Regions from separate parts of the Homo sapiens genome. Here region 1 is linked to region 2. The links come from fine-mapping of genetic effects on gene expression. A gene starts in region 2. The other region holds a variant in brackets. All regions are shown on one strand. Distances are between the middles of the regions.

The links. PIP is the estimated chance that this variant, and not a neighbour inherited with it, causes the effect. A credible set is the group of variants that fine-mapping cannot tell apart.
Region 1: its variant is the best candidate, but not a certain one, in a credible set for the expression of GMNN in whole blood (TOPMed, PIP 0.55).

The regions. Positions count from the first base shown.
Region 1 is chr6:24,805,997-24,811,380 of GRCh38, reverse strand. It overlaps RIPOR2 (RHO family interacting cell polarization regulator 2), which reads left to right. Exons shown (of 22, transcript NM_001286445.3): 21 at 1,574-1,664; 22 at 4,908-5,384. The coding sequence ends at 5,008. Among named protein-coding and RNA genes, the nearest start is that of ARMH2, 9.8 kb to the right of the region's middle. The variant C/T (reference allele first, on the strand shown) is at 3,061.
Region 2 is chr6:24,771,601-24,776,984 of GRCh38, reverse strand. GMNN (geminin DNA replication inhibitor) reads right to left here and starts at 2,048. Exons shown (of 7, transcript NM_015895.5): 1 at 1,741-2,048. RefSeq lists an enhancer at 1,054-1,133.

The DNA of each region.
Region 1 (5,384 bases), 34 kb before region 2:
ACACCTGTAATCCCAGCTACTGGGGAGGCTGAGGCAGGAGAATCGCTTGAATCCAGGAGACAGAGGTTTCAGTGAGCCAAGATTGCACCACTGCACTCCAACCTGGGCGACAGAGACTCCATCTCAAAAAAAAAAAAAAAAAAAAAAAAAAAGAATGAGAGAAGGCCACACCTTAGAACTTGCCAAAATCTTGGAAAAGAGCTGCAGGCCTGATAAAGAAAGGAATTAATACCTCAAAAGAAAAAGTTAATGGCCTGTGATCAAAAACAGCTCTAGGGCCAGGCATGGTGGCTCATGCCTGTAATCCCAGCACTTTGGGAGGCTGAGGCCGGTGGATCACCTGAGGTCAGGAGTTTGAGACCAGCCTGGCCAACATGGTGAAACCTCATCCTTACTGAAAACACAAAAATTAGCCAGGCGTGGTGGCGCACACCTGTAATCCCAGCTACTCAGGAGGCTGAGGCAGGAGAATCGCTTGAACCCAGGAGACAGAAGTTGCAGTGAGCCAAGATCACGCCACTGTACTCCAGTCTGGGTGACTGAATGAGACTCTGTCTCAAAGAAAAAAAAAGAAACAGCTGTAGGAAATTTTGCCTTGTTACTTGGTTAAAAAAAAAATTACCTTCAGGTGCCCAAATAGAAAGCCCACAGTGATTGCTATTTGGGTGCTTTCCTGATATCCAGTGATATATCAGTGACAGATGTCTGTGATACAGACAAAGTAAATAAAGACATAAGGATACAGTGATCTGCATGGGTTTTCATACTCTGAATCCACTAGACTGTAAATTCTTGAGGACCAGAACCATGTCTGGTTTACTGTGGAATCTCTCATGCCTTATGAATAGTCTGGTTCATGGAGTGCTCAATAAATATTTGTGGAACAAACAAATAGAAGAATTGTCATTAATGGCCTTTACCTCCTCCTCTATTTTAGCATATAAACTAAATAGTAAGAATTTTTTAATTAGAGCCATTTTGGAATCAGTGAGATTCAGTGGAAAGAACCAGGGAAAATGGATTCTACTCTGGAAAAGCAAGCTCGTCACTTCACTCCTCTAGACCAGGAGTGTGCTGTGGAATGAGGAATTTAGCTGATCATCAGAATTCCTGAAAGTAAGAACTCTGGGCCCCATCCCAGGAAATTCTGATATAGTGCATCCGGAGTGGCACCCAGGAATATTGGGTTTCAGACACTCAGCTAGGTTTGACCCCATAGGTAAAGTGGTTTTTAGCATTCCTACCAGCTGGCCGGGCACAGTGGCTTACACCTGTAATCCCACCACATTAGGAGGCCAAGGCAGAAGAATTCGACTAGCCTGGGCAACATAGTGAGACCTCATCTGTACCAAAGGTTAAAAATTAAAAATCAGTCCTGGCTACTCAGGAGGCTGAGGCAGGAGAATTGCTTGAGCCCAGGAGGTCAAGGCTGCAGTGAGCTATGATTGCTCCATTGCACTCCAGCCTGGGCAACAAAGTGAGGCTAAAGTTCCCACCAGTTGTGAAATGCCAAGTCTCGTGGTACTCTAGACCTAAATGTCAAAACACGATTTAACCTATTTTTCCCCCATAGGCTACTGAAAGCATTAAAATGCTGGTGACATTGTGTCAATCTGATACTGAAGAAATCAGAAATGTGGCCTCAGAAACCCTCTTGTCTCTGGGTGAGTTTTATTGTTGTTGTTTACATGATTGTTTGCTTCTGGCACTCTCTAACGGATGTTCCCATTTAGATGTTCCCTTCTCCAGTAAGGAGAAGTTTCATGTACCCTGTTTAGCAGTTTCCCCGCTGTAGGCTGTCTTCTCACACACAGAGTACGAAGAACTGATCAGTGTCTATCTCACCCCAACTCCTTGTTCTGTCTGGATGCTGAGAGTGAACTATATTGTCTGGAGACTTTCTATATGGATTGATCAGTCTGTGTACTATTTAGAATCAAGAACACAGAAGTCAAACCATAAAGCAAAGGCAATAGGAATCCAGGCTGTGTTGCCAGGTGGGGTTGACATTCCCTGGAGGACAGAAATTGGGTGAGGTACCAGAGATGCATCCCAGGGAATGCTGTAAATCCCCAGGTATCTCAGCCTCACCCTGACTCCCAGGTTAACCTCTGACTGCCCTGTGGCCTCTGCCCATCTGAGCCCTGATACCTAAGAAAAGAATTGGAGTACTTATTTTATTCTGAAATATCCAGATAATCCTTCCTCTTCACTTTATTTTATGAAGGTTCATGCCTAGCAGGCATTATACATTTATTCTTTTTTGGGGACTTGGGAGGGTGGGGAAAGCCTTTCTTAACTCTGTATTAAAAAGTATAAATAGCTGGGTTTGGTGGCTCACCCCTGTAACCCCAGCACTTTGGGAGGCCAAGGTGAGTGGATCACTTGAGGTCAAGAGTTCGAGACCAGCCTGGCCAACATGATGAAACCATGTATCTACTAAAAATACAAAAATTAGCCAGGTGTGGTGGGGTGCACCTGTAGTCCCAGCTACTTGGGAGGCTGAGGTAGGAGAATCACTTGAACCCAGGAAACGGAGGTTGCAGTGAGCTGAGATCATGCCACTGTATTCCAGCCTGGGTGACAGAGCAAGACTCTGTCTCAAAAAAAAAAAAAAAGAAAAAAGTATAAATAATTATTATAAATAATTTTACTTCAACAACACAATCTTAAAGTATAAAAACTATGCTCCTAGAAATCCTCAGACATAATCCAATCAATACTGCAGCTTAGAAAAAAGCTACCCTTGTTTAGTGATACTAACTTAACAACATGAAGAAGAATCTCATGGCATTTATAATCACTGTGAAAATCCCATTTATTGTTAGGCCCTCTTTCTTACAATTATGGGTTTAACAAGGCTTCATTCTGCTATTGAATATATGATTTCTTCCACAGAAATCTTAGCCAGTATATATTTGTTTAAAGAATAAAAGTTATTCCTTATGGTTGTATTAGGCATAGAAATTATTTAATTCTCTAAAAATGTACCAAGGTATTATTAGTTTAAACTCCTTTATCCCTTCATATTCTAAAATAACCATGAAGGTAAGCCAGGCG[C/T]TTATAAAGCATAGCCAACGAAGCTTCTATTTCCAGTGTAACCTAAGGAAGCTGATCCTACAGAATGTGCCCCGGGCCTCACTGGAGCTGTGCAAACAGCAGCATCTCCAGAAGCCATCACCATACCTGCTTCACCTTAGCTCTTCATGCACACTGCTCATATCAGCCCTGGGCCCTCTCACACCACCAGTGTGCAGTGCTCAACACTGGCTGCACATTTGCCAGGGAAGCTTAAACAATCTACTCCCAAAGATTCTGCTTTCATTGGTCTAAGTGTTCCTTGGCATCAGGATTTTTTAAGGATTTTTTGAAGCCTCCCAGGTGATTCTAATATAAAGTTTGAGACCCCCCTGAAGTCAATATTATGAATCTTCTTTGACCCTAATACACAAATACTGGCACATTTTTCTCTTACACAAATGACTGAATTAATATAGTGAGGATAGTATTTTCAATAGGAATTGATAAAATGCCCTATGACAAAGGGCAGAAGGTCATTGCGGGCACTTAAAGGACTCAGGGCTGCAACTATTTACCAACTAGTATGGAATGATTTCGACATTTTAACCTAGAGCTGTCCAACAGATCCCTCCATGGTGATGGGATTGTTCTATATGCGCACTGTCCAGTATGACAGCAGCCATCCTAAATGGCTGTTGGGCTGTTCACCTTTGCCACCATGGAGGAACTGAAGTTTTAAGTTTACTCAATTTTGAGGATAGCTGCTCCTTGACTTACAATGGGGTTACATCCCAATAAACCCGTTGTAAGTTGAAAATACTGTTAAGTCAAAAATGCACTTAATACATCTTACTTGCAGAACATCATAGCTTAGCCTAGCCTACCTTAAACATGGAGTCTCTCTCTATCACCCAGGCTGGAGTGCAATGATGCAATCTCGTCTCATTGCAACCTCTGCCCCCGAGTTCAAGCAATTCTCCTGCCTCAGCCTCCCAAGTAGCTGGGACTACAGGTGGATTCCACCACACCCAGCTAACTCTTTTTTTGTATTTTTTGGTAGAGATGGGGTTTCACTGTGTTGATCAGGCTGGTCTCAAACTCGTGACCTCAAGTGATCCACTCACCTTGGCTTCCCAAAGTTCTGGGGTTACAGGTGTGAGCCACCACACCCAGCTGAACTTCTGATTAGGCACAACTATTTCCATCTTTGTCTCACTTGCATTACATGTATGAAAGCCTGCTTCTTATCACTTGTCTTTGCATTTTATTTTCTCATTTTCTAAATCATTTTTTAAAGTAGAAAAATAGAACAAAACATTAAAATTATTTGCAATTGCATCCTAACTGTTCAAGGTGGCGTTACGGACAAAACTGAACTAGCTGGTGGCTGGTAGAAGGCATCTCTGTATGTTTACATAGTAAAAAGTAATTTTTAGCTGAAGTTTGAAAGCCTAAGATTGATTTTACCACATATCATTTAGATGTATCGATATATAATGTATACAAGTAAAAGTTATGTAAAAGTTCAGTGCATTAGCCATATTGAAATCCCTAATGTACTTAAAATATAATCCATACAATTGCTCTAAAATAAATCGATTATATGAAATCATCAACATCAAATGGCCATAAGACTTCTACTCTGTTTCATACCCTGGCATTCTTTTGGTCTCTGGCATTAATTAGCTCAAAAGTTCTTGGTTGTTCTAAGCATTACCTGGAAAACAATGACATAATTAGGAATAACAAAAGATAACTTTTCCTTACCAAAAGTTAGCATAGCATATTATAGCAACCCATCCCTAAACAAATGGCACTATGTTACTTTGAGTAATTAATAAAAACGTTGTTTGAATTGGTATTCATGTTTAATGTTCTGTATTTAGGAGAAGATGGGCGGCTGGCATATGAACAATTGGACAAATTTCCTCGAGACTGTGTTAAAGTCGGAGGTCGTCATGGAACTGAAGTTGCCACAGCCTTTTAATTACAGGTTAACTGCCTAACAGCTGTCTTAATATCTGGCCCTTTTCATCAGGATGGTGCTGTGGTTTGGGCTGGAAATTGTTTAGAGCCTGAGAGACACGACAACTGAAATAAAAATGTAGGCCAGGTGCAGTGGCTCATGCCTGTAATCCCAGTACTTTGGGAGGCCAACGCAGGAGAATTGCTTAAGCCCAGGAGGTTCAAGACCAACCTGGGCAACATAGCAAGGCCCTGTCTCTACAAAAAAAATAGTTTAATTAGTCAGGCGTGGTGGCATGCACCTGTAGTCCCAGCTACTTGGGAGGCTAAGGTGGGAGGATTGCTTGAGCCCAGAAGATTCAGGCTGCAGTGAGCCATAATTGCCCCACTGCACTCCA
Region 2 (5,384 bases):
CCAATTTCTAAAACTGGTTTAAAATTTCTAAACATATTGTCCTGGATTAAATAGTCACCAGAAAAAGCAAAATAAACAGATACTAGGGTATGCCCAGGTCCATCCTAAAGAGCAGCATCTTAACTTTCCTGATTCAAAGACAGATTTAAGGTATAATAAACTGGGCTCTGACAATAACTTAACACAGACTTAATATCTGGTCAAATGAGATCATGCATTTACATTTGTAGGAAATGTTTAACCAGTAACATGAACTGAAGGACTAACAAGCAAGAAAGAGGGAAAAGGTAGAAAGGGATCTATGTAATGCGGTTGACTAGACCACTGGGCCAAACTCAGCATCTGAACTGCTGCTCCACTGCCCACTGCCCACTGCCCACTACCCATTGGCCCCTGCCGTGTCTGCGCCTGTGCCTCGTCGATAGATGTCCCTAATTTTTGTGGCCATGCCTTTACTCAGTGCAGTGGCTTCTAACATTAATACATTTTACCTTGTGTCCTGGCGCGTGCACACACATGTGCAAACAAAAAAGCTTAGGAAAGGCCGGGCGTGGTGGCTCACATCTGTAATCCCAGCACTTTGGGAGGTCGAGGCAGGCGGATCACCTGCATGATCACCAAAGTGCTGGAAGGTCGAGGCAAGCGGATCACCTGAGGTCAGAAGTTCGAAACCAGCCTGGCCAATATGGTGAAACTCCATCTCTACCAAAAATACAAAAATTAGCCGGACGTGGTGGTGCTCGTCTGTAGTCCCAGCTACTCGGGAGGCTGAGGCAGGAGTATCGCTTGAACCCGACAGGTGGAGGTGGCAGTGAGCCGAGATCCTGCCACTGCACTCCAGCCTGGGCAACAGAGCGAGACTCCGTCTCAAAAAAAAAAAAAGCTTAGAAAACAAAACAATCTAATTTGTGCGGGCATCCTGCTATTTTCTACTCTATTTCATGTTAAGAAAATGGTGTTCGGGCCCCAGTAAACAGACCCTACGCAATGTTCTTCAAACTGCGGGTCGCGGGCCGTGATCTCGAAATTAGTGAGTCATGAGCAACACTGCTTAGAAAAATGCAACTGAACAGAATGGAATTGAAGAGACGAGAAACATTGCTTCCATCACGTCTCATTTGGTTAGATAGCTGTGTCCTAGGTTGCGACGTAAAACGTACCTTAGTGTGAAAAAAGCTGAAAGCCACTTAGCATTCTAATCCTTCACAAGTTTCCCACGCCTGTCAGCGACCTTGCAACCCTTACTTGTTATTCTCCAGTTCCTTTAATAGCTAGATTAAAAACCCTGGCACAGGACAGGGTCCATGCGAAACCCGTATCAACAACGCCAGTATCCGTTTAATGGGAGACGCAGAATTCAGCCACCTCTTTCCATGAGCCAAATTTGCAGATCCCTCAGATCAGGACCAGCCACTTAACTGCCAAGAGGATGGATGCTTCGCCTCATCCCCACAGCTGGCAAGCCCAGGCTGAGTCCCTTACCCGCGTTGCAGTCCCCAAGCCCGGACCCAGCCAACTTGTCCCGGAGGCCCAGCGCCAGGCTAGGGGGCGGGCAGTGTGGCCCCGCGCGTCCGAGCCTACCAACCGCGGCGCGCGCCTCGGGAACTGCGCCAGCCAGCCAATAGGAAGCGCGGAAGTGAGAGCGCGCCAAAACCGACCCAGCCAATGGGGCAGTCCCTCGACTCACCTCCCAACCCCGCCCCGGCTCCCGCGACCGTTCAACAACCCCTTCGCCCTTACCCAGGCCGCGGCCCTGCAGCTGTCAAAGTAGGACGCGGCTTCAGAGGTTGGCCGGAGGGAAAGCGAGTCGTCTAGAGGCTGTGCGCCTTGCGCCCCTGCGTACCCACTTCCTGCCGCCTCTTGCCCACTTACTGGGTGGAGACGCTCAATCCTCGTAGCGAACGCACGTAGCTATGGCTGCAGCACCTCGCAAAAGGCCACAGCTCACCTACGCTGATCCCCACGGTCGCTGGAGTGCCCGGCGCGCTCTGCAGTAAAGCCCTGCTAACTCCGCTCGCCCGCTCCGAACAACCACGTGACCAACTGACGCAGACGAGGGGCGGGGCCTCTGGATCCCGCGAATCGCCTCTTCCCTCGGCCCCGCCCCTTCCTGCGCCTGCGCGGTCAACGGTAGCGAGTACTTGAGGACCGTGGGGGTTTTCTGCGGGCTGGGAGGCCTGTGCCCTTTGACCCTCCCCTCCGACCCTGCTCTTGGAACTTCCTTAAAATGCAAAGTTTTAGCCCTTTACGAAAGGGAGAAAGATTTGCCTCCATTAGTCGTTAGCACCAGAAGAACAAAATATTGTATGTGCATATATATTAATATGTAGTACACGACATATATTTGTGTAAAGCCCTGGCTCCACGGACTCGTAGTTGTATTAGGGGCTTTTATATTTTGGCTTTTTGTGTTTTGACTATGGTGTGGTGCGGTAGGAATTGTTCAGGAGACAACCGATTATCAGTTAATCCTGCAGCTATTCATTGAGCGCCTTATACGTGCCAATTACTACTGTTCTAGGCACTGAAATTACAACTGCTGTTGCAATTTGAAGGAGCAGAAACACCTTGGTAATAATTACGTCTAGCCTTTTCCTTCTTTTTTTTTTTTTTAATTGAAACGGAGTCTCGCTCTGTCACCCAGGCTGGAGTGCAGTGGCGCGATCTCGGCTCACTGCAAGCTCCGCCTCCCGGGTTCAAGCGATTCTCCTGCCTCAGCCTCCCGAGTAGCTGGGACTACAGACAAAGGGAGACCCTGTCTCAAAAAAAAATTAATTTTAAAATATTTTAAAAATAAAAAGCAGAAGGAAGGCGTTATCGAGTACAAATAAGGGACATATTACCAAATGCAATGTATGGATCTCGTCTGAACTAAACACTGTATTTAAAAAAATACCCAAGGGAAATTTGAACACTGACTGAATATTTTGGGATGGTAAGATATGAGTTGTTTAAGGTTACCTGATGAGCAATGGGTTAAAAAAAGAGATTAGTTGTAATGACAATATTGTGGGTTTTATTGTAATAGCTTCTACCTATAAATGGTAATTACAGATGAAATTTTATACCATATATTTTATTTGAAATAATTATTGAGAGAAGCAAGGGAAAAGGTATAAATCAAGCTTTCTCAGTATGGGCTCTATTGACATTTTAGACTGGGCAAATTGTTCGTGGTGGGGGCTGTCCTGGGCATTGTATGCTGTTTAGCAGTATCCCTGGCCTCTACCCTCTAGCTACCAGGAGTACATCCCAATTGTGAAGACCAAAAATGTCTGCAGACCTTGTCAGATAACCTTCCGCAGGGCAAAATCATCCCCAGTTGAGAACCACTGGTGCGAATAAAACAGTATTGGCCTTGTGTTGATAACTGCTGAGGCTAGTATGGATGAGTACATGAAGATTTTTTATTCACTCCCTCTACTTTTATATCTGTTTGGGATTTTCAATAATAATTTTTTTTTTTGAGACGGAGTCTTGCACTGTCACCAGGGCTGGAGTGCAATGGTGCAACCTCGGCTTACTGCAACCTCTGCCCCCCCCGGGTTCAAGCGATTCTCCTGCCTCAGCCTCCCAAGTAGCTGGGATTACAGGTGCCCGCCACCACACCCAGCTAATTTTTTGTAGTTTTAGTAGAGACAGGGTTTCACTATGTTGGCCAGGCTGGTCTTGAACTCCTGATCGTGTGATCTGCCCACCTTGGCCTCCCAAAGTGCTGGGATTACAGGCGTGAACCACTGCACCTGGCCAATAATAAAATTTTTAAAATATTAATTTAAAAAGGATTAAATGATGGGATAAGGAGGTAGAAATACTGGAAAATGTTTAGCCATAAAAATTTCAGCAACCACTAGGCACCATGGCTCATGCCTGTAATCCCAGCACTTTGGGAGGCTGAGGCTGGCGGATCACCCTGAGGTCAGGAGTTCAAGACCAACCTGGCCAACATGGTGAAACCCTGTCTCTACTAAAAATACAAAAATTATCCAGGCATGGTGGCATGCGTCTGTAATCCCAGCTACTCAGGAGGCAGAGGCAGGAGAATAGCTTGAACCCAGGTGGTGGAGGTTGCAGTAAGCCAAGATCACACTACCACAATCTAGCCCAGGTGACAGAGTGAGACTCTATCTCAAAAACAAAACAAAACAAAACAAAACAAAACTTTAGCAACCACAAATATTTACACCAATTTTTTTATTTTTATTTTTATTCAGATGGATAAATAATAATTACATTGCACCAATTTATTTTTTGACAAACCATTTCTTTGATGAGTATAAGCACAGCTAAGAGAAGTGAAATGATGAAACACATTACTAATGAAGGTTTTGGGACTTGAGACTCAGATGATGTTAAGAATAATATACTCAGGATTGGCCGGGTGCAGTGGCTCACCCTGTAATCCCAGCACTTTGGGAGGCCGAGGCGGGTGGATCACGAGGTCAGGAGATCGAGACCATCCTGGCTAACATGGTGAAACCCCATCTCTACTAAAAACACAAAAAAAAGTTAGCCGGGCATGGTGGCAGGTGCCTGTAGTCCCAGCTACTCAGGAAGCTGAGGCAGGAGAACGGCGTGAACCCAGGAGGCAGAGCTTGCAGTGAGCGGAGATCGCGCCACTGCACTCCAGCCTGGGCGACAGAGTGAGACTACGTCTCAAACAAAAAGAAAAAAAAAAAGAATAATATACTCAGGATCTTCAGGGGATTATTTTAGTGCAGAATTATTTAAAGGATTGAAGATGGTCTAGAAGGTGGCCCCTGGGCATTAAATATGTTTTGTTTCACATACACAATTGTGGCCTACACATTGTCTTAAAATGGAAATTGTCTGTATTTTAAAAATCGGATGATTTCCATAAGCAAAGACAAATGATAAAGTAAGAGAAAATATAGGGAATTTCTTTTACACATAAAAGACTACATTCCCTAATTTTTAAAGAGCTATAAAACATTGAGAGGGAGAAGCCAACAGCCCAATAGATAAATCGGCAAAAGACAGGAATGGACGGTTCAGAGAAAACGATAGAGGAATGGTCCTTAAACATACAAAACCATGCTCAACTTTACTGAGAATAAGAGACATGCAAATTAAAACTCTGAAAAACTATTTCAACTATCAGACTAGCAGCTATAGAAAAGCTTGACAACATACTTACAGTAGATAGAATTCTAAAATGCCACCCATTATCTCTGACCTCTGATTATGCCTATGATTAGGTTATTCAATAAGGCAAAGGTGGTGGGATTTTATAATTGTAATTAAGGCCCCAAATCGGTATACTTTAAATTATCGAAAGTGAGATTATCCTGTTGGCCTTGACGTAATCATTAGGATGTCCTTCAACAGAGGGCTTAGACTTTTTTTGATGTATCTCTTACTGG